5 separate regions of the Homo sapiens genome follow, and all the other regions are reported to be linked to region 2. Evidence: microRNA targets listed by miRTarBase, many of them from high-throughput screens and not tested one by one. Region 2 holds a microRNA gene; each other region holds the end of a gene's coding sequence.

What was found. Region 2 holds the annotated microRNA hsa-miR-7974 (AGGCUGUGAUGCUCUCCUGAGCCC, at 2,455-2,478, opposite strand). A microRNA usually pairs through its seed, bases 2 to 8, with sites in the 3' UTR of a target mRNA and lowers its output. Matches are read on the target gene's strand: a 7mer-m8 pairs with bases 2 to 8, a 7mer-A1 pairs with bases 2 to 7 and ends in A, and an 8mer does both.
Region 1: miRTarBase lists B4GALNT4 as a target of hsa-miR-7974. Seed matches in the 3' UTR shown: 8mer at 3,654-3,661.
Region 3: miRTarBase lists MARCKS as a target of hsa-miR-7974. The part of its 3' UTR that is shown has no 7-base or 8-base seed match.
Region 4: the mRNA of PALM2AKAP2 is a reported target of hsa-miR-7974. Seed matches in the 3' UTR shown: 7mer-m8 at 2,971-2,977.
Region 5: miRTarBase lists KCTD5 as a target of hsa-miR-7974. The part of its 3' UTR that is shown has no 7-base or 8-base seed match.

The regions. Positions count from the first base shown.
Region 1 is chr11:381,333-385,556 of GRCh38, reverse strand. B4GALNT4 (beta-1,4-N-acetyl-galactosaminyltransferase 4) reads right to left here. Exons shown (of 20, transcript NM_178537.5): 20 at 3,440-3,888. The coding sequence ends at 3,765. Among named protein-coding and RNA genes, the nearest start is that of PKP3, 11 kb to the left of the region's middle.
Region 2 is chr19:11,493,090-11,497,313 of GRCh38, forward strand. MIR7974 (microRNA 7974) reads right to left here and starts at 2,533; the gene lies at 2,455-2,533. It overlaps ZNF653 (zinc finger protein 653), which reads right to left. Exons shown (of 9, transcript NM_138783.4): 3 at 2,861-3,076. RefSeq lists a silencer at 3,504-3,553.
Region 3 is chr6:113,860,174-113,864,173 of GRCh38, reverse strand. It overlaps MARCKS (myristoylated alanine rich protein kinase C substrate), which reads right to left. Exons shown (of 2, transcript NM_002356.7): 2 at 699-4,000. The coding sequence ends at 3,595. Among named protein-coding and RNA genes, the nearest start is that of MARCKS, 4.8 kb to the right of the region's middle.
Region 4 is chr9:110,167,945-110,172,168 of GRCh38, forward strand. PALM2AKAP2 (PALM2 and AKAP2 fusion) reads left to right here. Exons shown (of 11, transcript NM_007203.5): 11 at 455-4,224. The coding sequence ends at 553. Among named protein-coding and RNA genes, the nearest start is that of C9orf152, 38 kb to the right of the region's middle.
Region 5 is chr16:2,706,801-2,711,024 of GRCh38, reverse strand. It overlaps KCTD5 (potassium channel tetramerization domain containing 5), which reads right to left. Exons shown (of 6, transcript NM_018992.4): 6 at 1,995-3,727. The coding sequence ends at 3,698. Among named protein-coding and RNA genes, the nearest start is that of PRSS27, 11 kb to the left of the region's middle.

The DNA of each region.
Region 1 (4,224 bases), not on the chromosome of region 2:
CCGGCTGTGGGGGTTCCAGGCCTGGGAGTGGGTCTTGCCCGGCTGTGGGGGTTCCAGGCCTGGGAGTGGGTCTTGCCCGGCTGTGGGGGTTCCAGGCCTGGGAGTGGGTCTTGCCCGGCTGTGGGGGTTCCAGGCCTGGGAGTGGGTCTTGCCCGGCTGTGGGGGTTCCAGGCCTGGGAGTGGGTCTTGCCCGGCTGTGGGGGTTCCAGGCCTGGGAGTGGGTCTTGCCCGGCTGTGGGGGTTCCAGGCCTGGGAGTGGGTCTTGCCCGGCTGTGGGGGTTCCAGGCCTGGGAGTGGGTCTTGCCCGGCTGTGGGGGTTCCAGGCCTGGGAGTGGGTCTTGCCCGGCTGTGGGGGTTCCAGGCCTGGGAGTGGGTCTTGCCCGGCTGTGGGGGTTCCAGGCCTGGGAGTGGGTCTTGCCCGGCTGTGGGGGTTCCAGGCCTGGGAGTGGGTCTTGCCCGGCTGTGGGGGTTCCAGGCCTGGGAGTGGGTCTTGCCCGGCTGTGGGGGTTCCAGGCCTGGGAGTGGGTCTTGCCCGGCTGTGGGGGTTCCAGGCCTGGGAGTGGGTCTTGCCCGGCTGTGGGGGTTCCAGGCCTGGGAGTGGGTCTTGCCCGGCTGTGGGGGTTCCAGGCCTGGGAGTGGGTCTTGCCCAGCTGTGTGAGGGTGGGGGTGGCACCGTCGGCAGCCTTGGGGACATGGGGCACTGGGGACCTGCTGCCGCCACTGCTGCTCCTGCAGTCATCCTGCTCCCCTGTCCGCCTCCTTGCAGCCTGGGGTGAAGACTTTCGGCCCTCACAGAGCCCGGGTCGGCATCCGGGGCAGAGGGAGGCGATGTCACCACAAGATCCCCCTGCAGTTCCAACACTCAGGGGCAGCCTGGGGCCGCCCCTCACCCGACTCGCAACCATGCTGGGAGACACCTCTGGGAGCGGACTGTGGGCCCCGGTTCCAGCTACTGGAAGCACCAGGCTCCGCAGGGGCAGCAGGAGCAGGTACTTCTGAGCCTACAGGGGGCCGGGTGGGGGCCTTCCTGGGCCCCCAAGAGCACAGGAATATTGAGGTGCACGCAAACGAACCCAGTGCCCAGGAGGGCCGAGCTCCTGCCTGCTCTGTGGAGTGGGAGGCCCTGCCATGCCTCTCCGCTGCGGCCAGCATCTTGGCAGTGTCCACTCTAGATGGGCCACCGCTGCCATCACTCCTGCCTCAGCCTCCCGAAGTGCTGAGATTACAGGTGTGAGCCACTATGCCCAGCCTTATCATTGATTTTTAAGAAATTTCCTCAAAGGCTGCCGCTGACCCCTGCCCTCCCCCGCCTGTGTCCTCGGCCGCCTTCACCTTCTCACGCTTGGTCTTTCTGAGCACCCTGCTTAGAAACGCAGTCACGCTCACATGGGCTGCTGCCTTCCCGGGCTTCCTTTCTCTCCACTGCCCTTGCCGCCAGCTGGTATACCAGATGTGTTATTGATGGCGTCGTCGTGCCCCGCTCCCCCCCGTATTAGAATGTAAGATCCTTGGGGGCAGCAGTTTTTGTCTGTTCCGTTCCCTGCCTTTTCCTCAGTGCGGGACATGTAGTGAGTGTGCAATGAATCATTGCTAAACGGATTAAATGATGGTGTGAATCGTCCAGATTACATGGAATTTTGACTTTTTTGTTTTCCAAGGTTAATTCTCTTTCTGATGTGCAGGCTTCCCCTGCCTGTGGTTTACATTTCTTCTATCCTTTTCTCATTTTCTTGGGTTAGCGTGGATCATTAAATCCAAGGCTAGTTCTTCTCTTGCTGCGAAACATCTGTGAGTGGGGACAAGTCCATCTGAACTAGATACACAGGGATCAGCGGGCAGGACAGCTGGTCAGCACATGGCTTCTGGGCATGTGTGTGGCCAGCCATGTCCCCTGCCCTGCGGGCACCTCTGTGGACCTGCACACCTGTGGACCAGCAGGACCTGTGAAGCCCACACCAGGCGACTGGATGCCGCTCTGGTCCACGGCAGGTCCCCCTGGTTCTTCCTTCGGCTCCACCGCCCAGCTGCCGTGAGTGCACGGTGAGCAGTGACCTCAGGACGTATCTGCAGAGGACAATTCTGGCTGCTGGGCCTAGGAGCTATTTTCCCACCCCGTGTGAACGAGGAGGTAGAAAGAAGAGTGACCGCTCAAGATGTGCCTGTCCTAGTCCCAGAACCTGTGACTGTTACCTTCATGGCAAAGGGGTTTTGCAGATGTGACTGAGTGAGGGACGTGATGGTTATCGTGGGTTTGCTGGGAGGGCCCAGTGTCATCGCAGGGGGCCTTATAAGAGAAGGCAGCAGGGTCAGAGTCACAGGAGGAGATGAGGGAGAGAGGGAGAGAGAGAGTGAGTGAGAGAGGGGAAGAGGCCAAGCTGCTGAAATCCAGGTGGCCTTGAGAAGCTGGAGAAGGCACGGACGCAGACTCACACCTAAGTCTCCCGAAGGAACCAGCCCTGCTGACACCTTAATTTTAGCATTTTTTTTTTCCGAGACAGGGCCTTGCTCTGTTTCCCAGGCTGGAGTGCAGTGATGCAACCACAGCTCACTGCAGCCCTGACCTCCCGGGCTCAGGTGATCCTCCTGCCTCAACCTTCCAAGTAGTTGGGACTACAGGTACACACCACCGTGTCTAGGGATCCGGACGCTTCAGCCTCCCAAAGTACTGGGATTACAGGCGTGAGCCACTGTGCCGGGCTTAGTTCTAGGACTTTTTATCTCCAGAACTGTAAGATAATAATTTTTTTAAGCCACTACATTTGTGCCAATTTGCTACGGCAGCCACAGGGAACTCACACACTCACTCGCTGCCTGGCAGAGTACAGCCTCCCTCCTGTGACCTGGCCCAGGCCAGGACTGAGCTGGACCCACAGGCAGAGAGGAGACAAGGCAGGAGTGGGCTTCGACCAGCCTCTGAGTCTGTCCTTCTCTGGTGTCCTGCTGACCCTGACCTGGAGGGTTCCAAAGTCATACAGGCCCCCTGATTACGGCTTCACTGGCTTGAGTTGGGTTTCTGTTTCTGGCAACCCTGAGTTCTGCCTGATCACCCCCAACCCCAGCACACGACATGCCCCACCTGGGTGCAGCAGCTCCTCCACCCTAGAGGAGGCTGGGGTGGGAATGACACCCCGATTCTGTTTGCAGAATGAGGGGAACTGAGGTGGTGACTGCTCATTCCTCGCCTCAGTGTGGGAGGGCCCTGTGCTATCTATGTCTGTTATCAGCGGGCACAGACCCCATAGACACAGGGCGGAGGAAGTCGGAAGCCCCCTCCCCACAGGGCCCGGCACAGAACCTCACAGGCAGGAAGGGGAAAGTGGTCTTGGGGGTAGGAGAAGGAGAGGTCCGGAAGGGCTGCGGCTGGGAGTCAGGAGGTCGTGCTCAGGGTCCCCCAGGGGAGAGGACTCTACCTCTCAAGAGAACAGGCACAGAGGACTAGTCAGAACTAAAAAAAATATTTCATTTCATTCTGAATAAAAAACAGAACAGACAGAACTCTTGGAAATTCTGAAAACAATGTCATCGCTACAGCAAAATTTCACAGAAATCATCGCAGAGTGGGGACCAAGGCCAGGCCCTGACCCGCCGTGAAGGCTGCCTCTCCGGGGAGGGGCACGACGCCCAGTGGGCCAGAGAGGGGCAGGCACAGGCGGTGGCTGTGCCCCTCTGACCAGCCCTGCCGGGTCTCTCGGGACCGAGCTCAAAGCCCAGCCCCCAGCAGCTGCCTCGGGACTCCCACCGGGGCTGGGAGGGGCTGCCCGTCCTCAAGACGCCCCCGTGCGAGAGCCCTTCCTGCTGCGGACGCTCCACATGCCCCTCTTGGAGTGGTAGTGGTGATAGAAATTCCGCAGTCGGAGCCGCTCCACCTCCAGCCCTGCCTGCAGGACCCTGGGGCCGGGGGCAGAGAGGTGGTCAGGACCCCGGGGTTGGGGACGGAGAGGTGGTCAGGACCCCGGGGCCGGGGGCGGAGAGGTGGTCAGGAACCCGGGGCCGGGGGCGGAGAGGTGGTCAGGACCCCGGGGCCGGGGGCGGAGAGGTGGTCAGGAACCCGGGGCCGGGGGCGGAGAGGTGGTCAGGACCCCGGGGCCGGGGGCGGAGAGGTGGTCAGGAACCCGGGGCCGGGGGCGGAGAGGTGGTCAGGACCCCGGGGCCGGGGGCGGAGAGGTGGTCAGGAACCCGGGGCCGGGGGCGGAGAGGTGGTCAGGACCCCGGGGCCGGGGGCGG
Region 2 (4,224 bases):
CTCTGTTGCCCAGGCTGGAATGCAGTGGTGCGATCTTGGCTCACTGCAACCTCCGCCTCCTGGGTTTCAGTGATTCTCCTGCCTCAGCCTCCCAAGTAGCTAGGATTACAGGCATGCGCCACCATGCCCAGCTCATTTTTGTATTTTTAGTAGAGATGGGGTTTCACCATGTTGGCCAGGCTGGTCTTGAGCTCCTGGTCTCAAGTGATCCACCTGCCTCGGCCTCCCAAAGTGCTGGGATTACAGGTGTGAGCCACCGTGCCCAGCCTTTGTTTTGGGTCTTTAATGAGTAAATATGTATAAGGGTTTAGGACAGTAGGAGATTAAAAGTATGTACCCTGTAAGTTTCCTATTATTATCTCAGTGCCATTCAGGGCAGTGAGATGCCCACTGTTGATGGACCTGGGGTGGCAGCAGGGTTGGGGATAAGGAGGATCAGCCCCTCTTTCTGGATAATTTCCCCTTGTCCTGTATTCTGCAGGGTGGGCAAACTCTCTGGCACCATCCAGAAGGAGGGCGCAGTGTCCTAATGAGTGGAGGGAAGGGCCAGAGCACGCGTCTGGGTCCACCTGACTGCAGCACCTGCTAAGTTTGGCTGACCCCAGACTTCTCCTCAGGTAATGACAGCACCAACAGAAATAGCCATGGGCAAGGCCCGGTGGCATATGCCTGTAATCCCAGCACTTTGGGAGGCCAAGGCAGGAGGATTACTAGATCCCAGGAGTTTGAGACCAGCCTGGGCAACACAGTGAGATCCCATCTCTACAAAAAATTTAAAAATCAGCTGGCTGTGGTGGTGTGTGCCTGTGTTCCCAGCTACTCAGGAGGCCAGGGTGGGAGGATCACTTGAGCCCAGGAATTGGAGGCTGAAGTGAGCTATGATGGCACCACTGCACTCCAGCCTGGGCAACCGTGAGACCCTGTCTTAAAAAAAATAAATAAAAATAAAAAGCCAGGTATGGTGGCTCACACCAGTAATCCCAGCACTTAGGGAGGCCGAGGCAGGAGGATCACTTGAGGCTGGGAGTTCGAGACCAGCCTGGCCAAAGTGGTGAAAACCCACGTCTACTAAAAATACAAAAATTAGCTGGGCATGGTGGCTCACGCCTGTAATCCCAGCTACTAGGGAGGCTGAGGTGAGAGAATTGCTTCAACCTGGGAGGCAGAGGTTGCAGTGAGCCAAGATCGCACCACTGCACTCCAGCTTGGGTGACAGAGACAGAATCTGTCTCAAAAAGATAACATAACATAACATAACATAACATAACATAACATAACATAACATAACATAAAACATAACATAACATAACATAACATAAGGCCGGGTGCAGTGGCTCACGCCTGTAATCCCAGAACTTTGGAAGGCCGAGGTGGGTGGATCAACTGAGGTCAGGAGTTCAAGACCAGCCGGCCAACATGGTGAAACCCAGTGTCTACTAAAAATACAAAAATTAGCCAGGTGTGGTGGCAGATGCCTGTAATCCCAGCTACTAGGGAGGCTGAGGAAGGAGAATGGCTGGAACCTGAGGCTTGGCTTGCAGTGAGCCGAGATCGCGCCATTGCACTCCAGCCTGGGCGACAAGAGCGAGACCCTGTCTCAGATAAATAAATACATACATAAATAAATAATAAAAAGTTGAGTTGGGGCGTAAGTAAGCTGCTCTGGGCACCACCCACACCCCAGCCTGACCCATCACCAAATGGGCCAGTCAGATCACTCCTGGGGCTTGGGATTCCTTGACTGCCAAGTGGGGCTGATGACAAGGCCATGGGGAAGATTCATGGTGGCTCTGGGCAGGGCCAGGAGTGGCACACAGTGAGGGGGCAGTAAAAGGCAGAGGAGGGCGGAATGCAGATCATGGGATGGGGCAGCCGAGAGGCCACTGCACGCTGAGAGCCTGGCCGACACTTGGTGGGACGGTCGTTGGCGGGGGCGCCCACCCGGAACACCTCTCGCCCCCGGCTTCCCCTCGGCCAGCTGGGATGCCACCTGCTCCGAGATGCCAGCCAGCGCAGGCTCAGCCCTGGTGACCGCCCCACCCTCAGCCCTGACAGGACGCCTGGCAGTGTGCCCTACGCTCCTTCTCCAGCCATTGCCGAACCCCTGAGGCTGCCGGCAGCCCCCTCACCACTCACCGGGGCCAACTGAGCCTCCCTCACTGAGTCCCTGCCCCGTGGGATGGGAAGGAGAGAGGCAGGGACCGCGAAGGTGGGGAGGGAGGAGGAGAAAGGGGAATAGAAGGAAACAAGAGAAAGAGAGAGAGGGAGATGAGACAGAAAATGAAAGATCAAGGAAGGAGGAGACAGAGGCAGCTCAAGGGAGGAGAAATGGGGAACAGGAGGGAAACAGAATGGAGGGGGAAGGCAAGAAACGAAGCCTGGAAAGGCAGAAGGCAAGAGAATGCAACTGGGAGCCAGAGAAAATCGAAAAGGAGGTAGCGGCCAGCTTAGCCAGGGCTCAGGAGAGCATCACAGCCTATGAAGCCATAAGGCCTGGGTGGTTTAGGCGGCCGTTTCGCTGTGGGGGCCGAGCCCTGCCCCAGCAGGCCTGCCCCCGCCCCAGCTGCCAAGCCAGGGCTCCTGGGCCCTCAGCCAGCCCTGCCTGGGACTGGCCTTGGGCACAGATTGGCAAACTGCTCCATAAAGAGGGACTGCCTCCCCACTCAAGCTCTGTAAGGACGCAAAGAGGGCAAGGCCACGAAGGACTCAGCCTGGCCCATCGTGTCCCTGCTCTGCCCCAGTGCCAGAGCCAGAGCCAGAGCCACTGTGGCTGCTATTCTGTTTGTGATGCTAGCCTAGGGCTCGTAAGAAGCCCCCAGAAATGGGCGGCCCCCTATGTGCCCTCGCCCTGCAGACCTACCTTTGTCACTGTCAGGGTCTGAGTCGCTGAGGGGCTTCAGGGGCGAATGCAGGTCCTGGAAGTAGCGGTGGCCAGCTTCGCACTGCCACACGGCCGTGGTGTACAGGCCAAAAGTGGGGTCTAGCTCCGCCAGGTGCGGCTCGTACGGGCAGCGGTGCTTGTGGTCCTCGTACCAGATCACCACGTTCTTCAGGCAGTTCACGTTGCGTCGCCGCCCTATGGACACAGGGCCGAGGAGTGGGTATAAGGGACAGGGCTCAGCCCATGGTGACATGGCTGCCTGAACCACCGGGGCTTTATGGGTCCCATGGGTTTGGAGGCCCTCCTGAGTACCATCCAGGCCTGTACCCAGTTTAAAGGGGGAAACTGAGGCTCAGAGAGGAGAGGCACCCCCTGGAGGTAACGGGGACTGTTCTATTGGCAAAGTCATGTAAACAGTGGAGCCTGGTGCACAGTAGGTGCATAATAATTGTTAGCTGCTTGTTAATTGTTCTCATCTTCATCAAACGCCTAGACCAGCGCAGTCCTCAGGCCCAGGACTCCCAGGCTCCCGCCCTAACCACCCCCTACAGCCGCAAGGGGGCGCCTGTGAATGCCCGAGTCAAGTCTGTTCCCTCCTCTGCTCAGAATCCACTGGGCCAGGCGCAATGACTCACACCTGCAATCCTAGCACTTTGGGAGGCAGAGGCAGGCGGATCACTTAAGGCCAGGAGTTTGAAACCAGCCTGGCTAACATGGCGAAAACCCATCTTTACTAAAAATACAAAAATTGGCCGGCATGGTGGTGTATGCCTTTTGTCCCAGCTACTTGGGAGGCTGAGGTAGGAGGATCGCTTGAGCCTGGGAGGTGGAGGATGCAGTGAGCCAAGGTCGCAACACTGCACTCCAGCCTGGATGACACAGCAAGACCAACTCCCTCAGGGTAAAAGCCAAAGTCCTCCCTTCGGCCCACAAGGCCCACTGTGACTTGTCACCTCCCCGCCCTCACCCACTTGGTGACTGCACTCCACTCCAGCCACATGGCCTCCTCGCTGTTCCTGGAGCGGGCTAGGTGTGGCCCTGCCTCAGGGCCTTGGCACAGGCTGTGCCTGCTTCCTCTAGATAACTGTCTTGCTCCCTCCCCACTTCACTCAGGTCTCCCCCAAATGCATCCCCTCCAAGAGGCCACTCCCTGCCCAGTCACTCTAGCCGACCTTAACTTTGCTGTCTGTTTTCTCCAGGTAGTACCTAGATGCCATCTGTGGCCATTTGTTTACATGTGCCCTGTCTGTCTCTCCCACCAGAATGTCAGCTCCTCAAGAGCAGGAACACTGCTGTTTTGCTCCTCCTGTACCCCCAGTGCCCCCAAAGGGCCTGGTTCATAG
Region 3 (4,000 bases), not on the chromosome of region 2:
TAAAATTCCTGTGTGGCACACTCTACTTTCATAGGATGTGGAGAGGGGAAAAAAATGCTCAATATGCAGTGAATGATTAAAGGGAAGTTAAAATCTAATAGATCTCTTACTTACTTTTAAAAATTTTCAAACTTGACTGAGGCTACATTAAACTATACTCCCCTACCAACTGCTAGTCAAGGATCTATCTAAAAAATATGACTGCATGTCCAGGGATGTGTGGTGGCTCATGCCTGTAATCCTAGAACTTTGGGAGGCCGAGGCAGGAGGATCGTTTGAGCCCAGAGTTCAAGACCAGCCTGAGCAACATAGTAAGACACCTGCCTATAAGTAAATAAATAAACATATATATATATATATATATATATATATATATATATATATGGCTGTGAAAAGTACCTTACCCCAAATCCTTAACTTTAATTGAAAAGATATATTGTTTATATTCATATGATAAAAAAATTGCATTGTTTCTCAAATATGTTATCAAGTTCTATCGTTAAAATTTTTAATTGGCTTGGGGGCATACAACTCACCTTCAATGGATATAATTTTATTTGTTAAATATAATGCCAAGCATATCATTTAAATCTCTTAAACTGAATGCTTACCTTTAACACTTAAGATTTAAAAATTTTCTCTAAAAATATTTGCATTTTAAAATAAAATTTGTAAAAAAAAATCCTATTTTAGCAGGCTTGATTATATCAACTGGTAAAACTTTATTTTACAAGCAATAGGAATTGGATCAAATGATTATTATAACCCAGAGGAAGTATTTTGTAACCACAGCAAATGCCATTATACATACTGCCAATACAGATTTAATAGACAATACTGAACTGTACAAGAGTTATTTATTTTTCCTTAATCTCAAAGCTATTTTTAGTAATACAAAAAAGCCATATTAACATTTTTTTCCGTTAGAAAACATGATGTACAAAACTTTGGATGAAAAGATACGTCAAATTTCATTTAATCACTTGGAGGAAAATCCACCAACTCCATCAATACCACCCAAAGTGTTTTAGGCAGTGAATAAAATCAAAATAATGCATCTTAATAAATTCCAGCTGTTAAAAGAACAAACTTAGCAATATATAACAGTTTGCTAACAGGATTTTTGACTATTCACTTTGGGAGTTATTTTTAAAAATCCACTTTTTTACTGAGTCTTACTACATACCAGGCACTGTACTTGGCCATCTAGGTAACTAAGAAAACGTTGGTTAAGATAGGAAAGACCCATAAATCAGTCCTTTGGTTACCAAATTCAATTTTTAACTTTCAAACATCCTCCAAGATCAAGAAACCCTAACTAAAAATACATACCCTTCTAAGTGTTATTTGATTTTATTAGTAGCAAGGGTGTTTGGTAAGGTCATGAACCACTATTTTTGATCCATTATTCCAATTAAGAATGCGTGTCAAAACCTAATTTGTTATTTTTCTAATGAGTTTAAGATTTGGCATTCAGTTGTTACACATGTGGTTCAATGATTTATCATGAACCCTAAACTGCACACTGCTCAAAAACAGCAAAACAGATGTGCATTAAATGAAATAATGTTTTTGATACATATCTTAAATTTCAATCAGTTTAGGGTCCTTTGAAGGAAAAGATATCCAGTTATCGGGTGGCAAAGAGCAGAGGAGGTAAACTAGTAAAGATTATTAAGATTCAGTGAAGTATTATTGTCTGTCTTATCCTTTGAGTAACAAGATGCTAACACACTTTCAAAAAAAAAAAAAAAAAAGGATGCTTAAAACTATGCTAAAGGCCCATGAACTGACATCATCCATTCAACACCATTACTTTGTTACATAAACCTGTTTTCTTAAGGTAGAACATATTATGCAATAATTTGGAAATTAGCCAAGCACTAAGCAATTACAATAGCAGGTAATACACCATCAATTTTTGAAACACATTTGGTCACATTTCATGACCCATCTGCAGTATGGATTCTATAGACTCTCACTCAGTTTAAAATTTGTTTCTGGACCTGAATGACAAGAGAATGGCTTTATGAAATTTTCTCATAAGACATTTAAATAGTCTTAGGTTCACACCCCTTTTGTTGTAAATGATTTAATCTGACATGCTATATAGCTACAATAAAAATAATTATGTTCAATTCTTAAATGAAAACTAAATGCCAATAAATGGTAACAGATTTGACATGGAAATGTTGTAAGATCTTCCTCTACGTAATCTGACACTGCGGATTATGAATTTCAGAGCTTGAAAACTTCAGATTAAGAACCACAATAAAATTTACTCCTGATGGCATGCAAGATCTTCCTAAAAATTAACCTAAGACCTAGAAGTCTCAGTATTATTAGAACATAAAAAAACACAACAAATTTGTACATTTTATTCACATTTATTTTTCGCTTTTAGTGTGCTCACAGAAAATTAGAACACCTTAAGCAGGAGTTTAATAGCAATTTTTGTAAGCAAAGTTACATTCCATCTCTAAGTCAAATTGGTCAAAGCTTCTCCAGTATTTACAAAACATGATAGACAAGATGCTACACAAAACCATTGCATCTGAAGATTTTTTTTCCTTTATTCTCAAAGACGACTGGAAAAGAAAGCATTATCTGCTGTAATCAAAAACATACCACAGTATAAACAGTAACCATTCCACTTATCACAGCTTGGTTGAGTTTAAAATTTGTGTTTTAAAAGGTCCAAGATGACTGCAGTTTTACAAAAATGGGCAGGGTGGAAAGTTGCAAACTTCATGTGCTTCTGGATATCAAGATTTGTTTTTATACAATAGTCACAGTTAAAAACACCCTGCTGGTAATACATAATTACACTTTATTAAGGTCATAAACCAGCAATAAACAATAAAGCCTATACAACTTGTAGTTCTACTTAATCACTGACTGGTACAGCTAACATGAGATAAGTGAAAAGTTCCTATGGTTTAAATGAACTCCTAAGACTATGATCGTTTTTTTTTTTTTAAATCTGGGTATTGGTGTTTTTTCTTTTTTCCTCTTTCCTTCTTAACTCAAGACTTGTAGTGTTGTAAACCTGCCTCACAAAATACATGGTAATAACTTTTCTTTTAAAAAAAAAAAAAAGACAGCCTTTACACCATTTCTAGTGGCACACTATTTTGGCAATGTTATGCACCACTTCAATTTCCCCATTGTGACCCCATCACTTCATTTGATATCCCTTTTTGACCCACCCATCTCCTTCATATATGGGCATGTCCATAGATTGACAAAGAAAGTTTACACTTTTGAATAAAGATGCAAAGTATGCAAAAACATTAATACTGATGCGAAAAAATAAAAAATAAAAGAGAAACAAGGCAGAGGAAGAAGGTGTTTAAGCTCTCCTCGACCTGTTGGAATGGTGGTTAACAGAATGATTTGAGATGGGATCTGTGGGGAGGGGAGAAAAAAAAAAAACAACAAAATTTGGTGCTTAAAAAAAAGTAAAATAAAAAAAGACATCTTTAAAATCAATCCCTGGTTGTAGACAAGTTCTCCAAAACCAGTACCTGGCACCACTCCAACAAACAAACGGGGGAGAAAAGTTCTTCGATTATCTCACAAAAGCTTGCTCTTTTACTCTGCCGCCTCCGCTGGGGGGGCTTCTGGACTGCACTCGGGCTGGGCCTCCTGTGAGGGGGCTGCGCAGGCTGACGAGGCTGCGGCGGCCGCGGGCTCCTCCGCGGGGGCTGCCTCCTGCTCCGGGGGCGCGCCGGGCCCGGCGGCGGAGGGGGCCTCGCAGGCGGCGGCGCTGGCCCCGGCCTCCTCGGCCTTTTTCTCCTCCACCTTGCTGGGCTCCTCGGCGGCCTTGGTCTCGTCGCTGGCGGGCGGCTTCTCTGGCGCGACAGCGGCCTCCTGGGGCTTGGCCTCCTGCGGGTCGCCACCCGCCGCCCCCTCCTCGCCCGCTGCCGCCTCCTCGCCCGGCGCCGCTGCCTGCTCCCCGGAGGCCGCGCCCGCCTCGGCGGCGGCCGCAGCTGCGCCC
Region 4 (4,224 bases), not on the chromosome of region 2:
TTTAGCTTCTCAGCCACACTAGCCCTATTTCAAGTGCTCAATAGCCACGTATGGCTAGTGGCTACCATACTGGATAGCAGAGATACGTTTTCATCATTGCATAAAGTTCAATTGGACAGCACTGATCTGCTGCGTGTAGGGATCTGCTTTATCTGAAAACTTGATGCAGAATCACGGCTAGTTCAAAGAAACTTGCAGAACATTTCATGAAAATTAAATTTCTCTATGGTGAAAACTAGGGGTCAAGTAGCAGATGAATACTGGCTGTGAGATGAATGCATAACCAGAACCTCCCATTCCCCTTTTTCCAGCGTCTCTCCTATCTCCCAGCAGTGCTTTATCACTTTCTCCTCTCAAGTTGATAAAGAGAAAGGAAGAAAGAAACAGAGAAGTCGGTTTATGTTCATAATTAACATCCATGAACTCTGCATAATTTTTTCCCCTCTCTTTACAGGTCCTCGAGGCCACACGGGTTAATCGAAGAAAGAGCGCACTGGCTTTGCGCTGGGAAGCAGGGATCTATGCCAACCAGGAGGAAGAAGACAACGAATAAACTTCCTTCAACCCAGGAAGCGTCTTTGGTGCTTGGGAGACCAAGAAACCAAGAAATTAACAACTGAAAGCATTTTAATGGACTATTTATTAAAGTGCAAACAAACTCAGCAATCCTTATGTAGACCAGAAGCTGCAATATACAATGATGAAAATGAAACGAAAAGGAAGTCCCCCCATCAGACTCTGGACACCCAGGAATCAAAAGAGAAAGGACTTTTTTGGTGACTCAATCCCAGTGTCTGGTTTGGGGCCAATCTACAATGGATCCAAAAGGACAAAACATGTTACAAGCAAATCAACATAGTTGCTGCAGGCGGAACTGAGACCAGCCTCTCTGGGCGATGAAGGACAATGGTGGTAGGGCCACTTAGAGAGCAGTAGGGCCCAGGCTGGTGCAGCCTACATGGCACAGGATATTTCCCTGCACCAGTTTCCCACCTGTCACTTGCAGCATCAGAGGGTGTTGCATTAACTCCATTTTCTCCAGCAGCCATAAAATGAATGGCGTTTCTCTCCATATTTGCCCAGAAGAGGCAGTTATGATTCCACTTCTCCTACATTTAATTATTTTTAATTGAGAACAACTCATGATCACAATTCATAAAATCCATATTTTAAGACAATAGTTCTTCATGTCACAAACACAATCTATTCTACATGAGGAGGCTGAGAAAGGGGAAGAGAAAAACAAACCAAATGGATGATGTTAGCTTTAGGATCGTGTCTGCTTATAATATTCACTGATCTGCAGTTTATGAGAACACATTTTCACAGTTATGTTTCTTCATAGGAAAACTATATTTAGTGGGCAACAACTATTTTTATGATGGGATGGGGGAGTATATACACGTATAGAATCTGTACGCGTTGAACAACTTGGTTCAAGATGGTGGGGGCATTTTTAGAGCGGCAATAATTGAAAAAAAAGGCGAACTCTGCCTTGGAGAGGTAGATGATAAGAAATAAAAAGGTGTTTATAACTATTTTGTATTATAAAGTGGGCCTTAGAGATAGGAAGAAGAATGATGGATTCCTTTTGGATCAATCAGAAAGGAAACACGAAAGAAAAGTCAGGAAGGTAGAGAGAGAAAAAGGGAGGGAAGGAGAAAGAATGGGAATAAAATAAGGAGGTAAGAGATACTATTTTTGCTGAGCAACCAGTGTGTTTCAGGATGATACAAAGAAAAATATAGAATAGAAATAAGTGCAGGCTTGGAATCAGCTACAAATCCTAAAGATGGGGTGTGTGTGGATGTGTGTGTGTGTGTGTGTACACCATTGTGTGTTTGTAAAATGTGTATGTTCATGAGTAAGGGTGTGTGTGTGTGTGTATTAAAATTCCAGAGTGACCGTGGCACTTGGGTGTACAGGTAATTCCTCCAGAGCTGTTTGCTGGCTTCAGGAGTGGAGTGAGAATTTCTTTTTTATGAAAAGGGATATAAAGGCACCGAGCTGATGCAGTATTTGTAATATTAAGTTGACCTAACAAGGTATTTGCATGAGTCACAATTACAAAGTTTTGAGCGGTTTTGTAATTTGACATTTAGGAGAGTCTCCTATTTATTCTCATACTTTACATTCATGCTTAGTATACTATAGAGGATGCCAGCTTTAATCTTTCTGTCATTTAAAGCAATATGATAAGGGTATTCAATAATTGGGTGCCCTAAATTTCTGGATGAGAAAATTTTCAATTCTGGCCATGAGAAAGAAAAAAAAATAAACAGCCTTCTTTTTTTTTCCTTTGTTTTAAAACTGTGGTTTTTTAAAAAAGCAATAATTAACTCAGACCTCACTAAAAATCATTTTTGTTTTTATATTGTTATGTCATAAGCTCTATTATGTTATTCTAACAAGTAGCAATTTCACAAAATTTGTATGTAGATGTTAACGCACATTTCCTTTGCTTCTTTTATTAGACTAGTGTTGACTTTGGGGGGGGACATTTATTCACAAATGAGAAGTAGGCACAAAGTAAAAAATGGAACCATCTACTAACAAGGATCCTTTAAAACTGCCAAGGGAGCTCTAACTTGAAGCCACATCCTACAGATGGCAGCCCAAATAGCACATGGGCAATTGGCACCATCTTTATATGGTTGAGTCTCCTGAATATTTTGAATGAATTCTCAACAAAATGTGCTAGCCACTGGGGACGCAAAACAAGTAAGATCCCTGTTGCAAGAAATTCATTTTATAGTGAGGGAGGTTGGCATGGAGACTAAAATTCTCAGGAAAATGAGATCCGTGTTAGATTAGAAGTCCTGATGTGAAATGGGAGGACTCAGGAAGGAGGATCGTCTTTACCTGAGGATTTCTAGCCAGAGGTCCCAGATGCCTGGGCTGAGAACCCAGCGATAAGGGGGCGTTCCCAAAGCAGACACAGGGATAAGAACAGAGGAGGCAGCAGCATTGCACAGCCCCAGGCACAGTGGCAGTTAGGATGGCTGGAGAGTAGGATAGTTCTATGGGTTGCCCAAAAAATGTGATGCGCTTCATGTTTTCTCTGACTCATGGATCTGGTAGAGACCATAGACATGATATAGACTAACTTCCCCATTTTTCACAAGAGGAAACCATCCTTATGACTTACCTTAAAGTTTTTTGTTCTGTTTTGAAGGAAACCATGTGCTTCATGAAACCTACAGTTGACAAGAGAATGTACAGCTAAGAGAAAAGCTTAAGAGGCCACACTATTCGCGGAATGGCTTTAGAGGCAGATGAAGTGGTCTTTGACCACAGTTGATTGAACCAGAGCACTTATTGCTTAAAGAATAACAGAGTTCTAGAGCTGGGGGTTCTTGGGCCATGCTCCGTGTGTGGATAAGGAAAGAAATACTGTTTCTGGGACTCTCCCACAGTCACAAAGCTGTTTTCACTGTGGCCCCTACATCTCTTAACTTTTGCTATTACTCCTATGCTGCCTTCCGGATTACTGCTGTCTATCTTCTTGCTCCACTCACTGAAGATCCTATTATAATCCCATGAAAATGTAAATTACAGTTTACTTGGGAGAGCCAGATTTTCTCTGTGCTCTTGAGTTTTTTATTCATTCAAGAAACCTTGGGCCACCGCTTTGTACATAGCACCGTGCTAGGCTCTGGGATCCCAAATGGACCCTTTTAACTTTCTGAAGATGGGACCGTCCCCTGGAGGAAAGTCATTCCTGCCTAATCCATCGAGAGAAAGAGGCTTACGAAAAACTTTGCCTCTGATGCTCAGCCCCACCCCCAAATAGCACACAAGCTTGTTAACCCCACCTCTTACAAAATGTTTAGATTCTGTAGGTGTTAAAAGCCTTTCTGGAAGTATTGCATTCTGCCGTGTTTATAGGTGTTCACTTTCCTCCAGAGCTGATTAACTACTGACATGACTTGGCTTTCTCATCCAGAAATTATGGAAACAGGGTCTGTCAGTGGCAGGAGGCCGTGCTGTGTTTTACTTGGATGACACAATGCAGTTTACTTGCCTCTTCATACCCATGCATGCTGCTCACCCTAGACAATGACATATAAGCCGTATATAGATCAATGTCCACATATATATACACACACACATATATATATATAAAGTGTAACAAGGAACACTAAAACAGTGTTGATTCTTGTCTCTGAAGACAAATAATTAAACCTTTTTTTTCCCAACTAAAGAATGGATTTAATTAAACTA
Region 5 (4,224 bases), not on the chromosome of region 2:
GAGGGACTCGAGGGAGAGCCTGGCACAGGCCCGCGCACATTCTGTGGCTCACAGGGAGGTAGGCAGAGCGGGCGGCAGCCTTCATCCCCAGGCTCAGCTGGCCCATGTGCACACATACACACACCATTCCCATGCCACTCACAGGCACACACAACACATGCATGTCACATGCCACACACAGGCACACACCACATACCAAGCACACACCACATGCCACACATCACATACAGCACACATGTGCATGCCACACACACCATGTGCACACAGGCACACACCACACCCACACCATGTACAGCCAGTAGGTACACACACACACACACACACACACACACACACACACACACACACAGAGCAGGAGCGGGAGCCCCAGGAAAGAAGTCTGTGGGCTCCATTCGGGCCAGAACTGCGGTGAGGGGTCAGCCACAGGCCAGGCCTCCCTGTGCCGAGCCCCAGGCCTGGGAACACTGGGGAGGAAGAGGTGGTCTGAGGGCAAAGTGACCCATCTTGGGGGGCACGGCTCAGTGCAGAGGTGCCGGAAGTCATCGTCCCTCACACAGATGCCACGTCAGGGCCTTGGTGGCTGCACTGTGGGGTCAGCTCTTCATCGCCCCAGCCGGCCACTGCCACGAGCTTTAGGAGGAAGGAGGGTGCTAGAAGTCCCTGCTGAGTGGACACCAATAAATGCAGGGATGTCAAGGAGGGTGGTGCCAGCCGCTGGAGGGCTCCAGTCATGGGCTCTACAGGAAGCCTGGGGAGGACGGGCACCCACGCAGGGCACCTGCATGTGCCCCGCCCCTGCCTCCTCTTCTGCCCCCACGCTGGCTTCCTGGAGCCACAGGGCTGGGCCCCAGTCCCCACAGCGGGCGGGCTGTGCTGGAGCCCAAGGTCTGAGGAGGAACAGGGCTCCCTCCCTGCCCAGCAGACCCAGCGGCCCTGAGCATCCTCGGCTTCAGGACCCAAACTGCAGGGCCTGTCTCCTTTACAGCCTTTTGCTTGGATGGGAAACCTGCTCCGGGCTTTGGCTGGGGACGCCTGCCACGCTGAGGCTTCTCCCAAGTGCCCACAACTCTACCTGGTCAAGGGGCTGTAAGGCCTAGCCAGGCTCCTGGTGGGAGTCGGGCAGCGGGAAGACCCCTTGGAGCAGAAACTGGGTCTCTCCCCTACTCCAAGCCCCGTGCCGGCCTCATGCTGGGCACCCAGAAGCCCAGTCACCCACTCCACCCCTCACCAGGGCCCTGGGGTCAGGCTGGGCCAGCCACACACCTGGAAACAGGATGGACAAGGCCACTACAGCCTGAGGCTCTGTGACCTCAGACAGCCAGGCCCTGGGGGACACCGTGAATGGGAATCTCCCTGCGGGGGGGCGGGGAGTCCAACAGCCAAGGCTTCGTGGAGCAGCCACCAGGAGGAGTCACAGCAGCTGGCGAGGGGGTGCCGGGACCCCAGGACCTTCTCGGGAAGCTCCTGCTGTCACAACCCAGGCTGCAGGCTAAAGTGAGGGAAGAGAGGTGGATGCTAACTTGAGGTATCAGGACTTTCAAAAAAACATCACTTGAGCCGCGCGCAATGGCTCACGCCTGTAATCCCAACTGCTCAGGAGGCTGAGGCAGGAGGATCACTTGAGCCCAGCAGTTCAAGACCAGCCTGGGCAACATAGCAAGACCCCTGTCTCTTAAGGAAAAAAAAAGGCCCTTGTACATGGTCTCCGGTCTCCCGGGATGGGGGTATGCTATCTGCTGGAGGTAGGTGAGGGGTCCAGGCAGAGTGGGGTGCAGGGATGGGCCGTGCAGCTCTGATCCAGTGACCCTGGCCAAGCCGGCACCCCGTGGATGGCCCAGCTCCGCCCTGGCCATCGACTGAGAGGCAGAGGCAGAGCCCTGAGTGAGCCGCCGCGGCCAGTGGGGCTGGGCGGCTTGGAGGGGCAGCACCTTGGTCCGAGCGACCCGGGGTGGCATTCCCCTGCATCTTAAGACCATAAACAGCTACTACGCGCATTCATAAATACACAATTTTATTTGCTATTTCCAGGGGAAACTTAGGCATTAAACTGTAAGCTGATAAAATACGATACCTAAAAAAGTATAAAAGTATAAATATCCCCTTAGAATAAATTTTAGTGAATTAAGTCTTAATATCTTTAAATTAAAAAAACCACAAGCCTATCTACTATGTCAAGGTCAAAAATCAAACAACGCTAAGCGGCCAGCAGCTCCCCAGAGAGGATGCCCAGGAGCCCCAGCGGCCGCCTTCCTCCCAGGCTCTGCTGGGGCTAAGTCTGCCTTCTAGAAAGGCTTTTATAAATTGTTTAAGCCAAACATTTAACAACATACAAGAGACCTTACAAAAAGAAGGAGGTAAGTCCTAATGCTGGAGAATTGGTTAATCAGGTGACTGGCAAAGAGGAGGATGAGGCCTAGGCAGGAAGTCTCCAGAAGCATTGGAAACCAGACAGTGTCAGAGCCTCTGACCTGCAGGCGGGAGGCCGGTGGTCAGTCTGCACAGTACCCCTTGGGAAGCCGGAGTTCCGGAAGCAAAGCGCTTGGAGCCCGCCCTGCACGCCGAGTCCCCAGACTCTGACAGGTCCCCACAGCCAGCTGAGAAAGGTCTGTTTTCAAAGCATGCGGGCAGCGGTTTCTAAAGGAATCCCAGCAGCTCCCACGGCATGTCGGGCAGAGCCCGTGCAGGTCGAGTGAAGTCCCAAACATCCCAGAAAGAGAGGGAAGGCTGCATAGTTATACAAAGAAAATGAGAGAGCGGCGAGAGAGAGGCATTTGTGATGCTCTGTAAACATCCCGAATTTTCACCGTGACGCAGACCTTCAGCTCCAGAAGCCAGTGGACAGGCCTCCAGCCCAACCTCTATGCCAGGCGTGACAAGGCACTGACAGACGCCAGCTCCCCGTGAGCCCGCAGTGGGAGGGGCGAGGCGACACTGCTACCTCGCGCTAACGGATGGAACAGATCAGTCTCCACGCGGCAAGCCCTGTGGGCATTTCCAGAGGAAAAACGCTGGGGAGTCTATCCACACAGAGAAGGGGTACAAAGTTCTCTTGCCTGGAAAATACAAATTGAGAAGCCTTGACTGTCCCGGGCTTGGTCAGGTGGGGTTGGAGCCCGTGTCAGAAGAAGGCCCGGCCTCGGAATGGCGCCGGGAAGCAGTGACGACGCAGAAGCCGCCTTTGTCAGGAGCTCTGCGAGGTCGAGAGAAACCAGCGATCCCGCCTGGGAGGCAGAGCAGACTCCCTGACCGAGACTAGGGCCTGGTGGTCGGACCAGAGGCCACGACGTGCTGGACACTGACGCGGCTGCGGCCGCTTCCTGCCAGTGAAGCCCAGGCTGCTTTTCCAGACTGTGTGTAGCACCAAGAACGCTTCCTTCACACGATCTTCAGGATCGAGCGGGCTGACTGGGAGTGTCTGCCTCAGTCCCACGTGGCACTTGGAAAAAACAGAGCGAGGCCCCCCCAAGAGGCAGCGCCCACCCGGCCGCCGTGCTCCCCCAACTTGGGGACGTCTGGCCTTGGACAGCTGGGCCCGTCTCTCACCACCCACCTCAGAGGCAAAAAAGGATTCACACCCAGATCTCTAGAAAAATGATCAAAAGCAGGTTTCTTCTCACAGCCAAGCTTCCTGGACATGGCAGTTCATTACATCTCGGGAAAACGTAAATCATTTCTTCAGCTGTCAATACTGTGTCCCTCACATCCTTGAGCCTCGTTCTTGCAAAATCTGAAAAACACCAAATGCATAAAATGAGGACTTGGGCTGAGGAGGTGTCCCTGACCAGGCGCCTGCTCCAGAAAACAGAGCCCACAGGCCTGGGGTTAGCTCGGGGAGCCCCGGGAACCCAGCGGCACTGGCCAGGGTCTTGGGGACTCAGCTGGCAGGCCCAGGACCTTCACCGGGGTGTCTGGCACATCTCCAGGCCCCACACAGGGAGCGCTCACTGTGCATGGCAGCCCCTCCCAGACCCACCCAAAGGCGCTGACTCTTGGGCCTCTCAGCCCACTCAGTCCTGGGCCTCAGACATGAAGCGCAACTCGGCCCGCGGGTCCCTCAGCAGTCCAGTCCCCCCTCCCCAATTAAGTCTCTCCCTCTGTTCCTCCATGCCCACTGCAGCCCCCACCCCCACCCCGACGCCCGGACCCTCCTGGAGATGCCCCTCACCCAAGCCCTCGGCCCTGCACCTCAGCCTGGCCAGCCCACCTCATGTGCTGGCCCCTCCC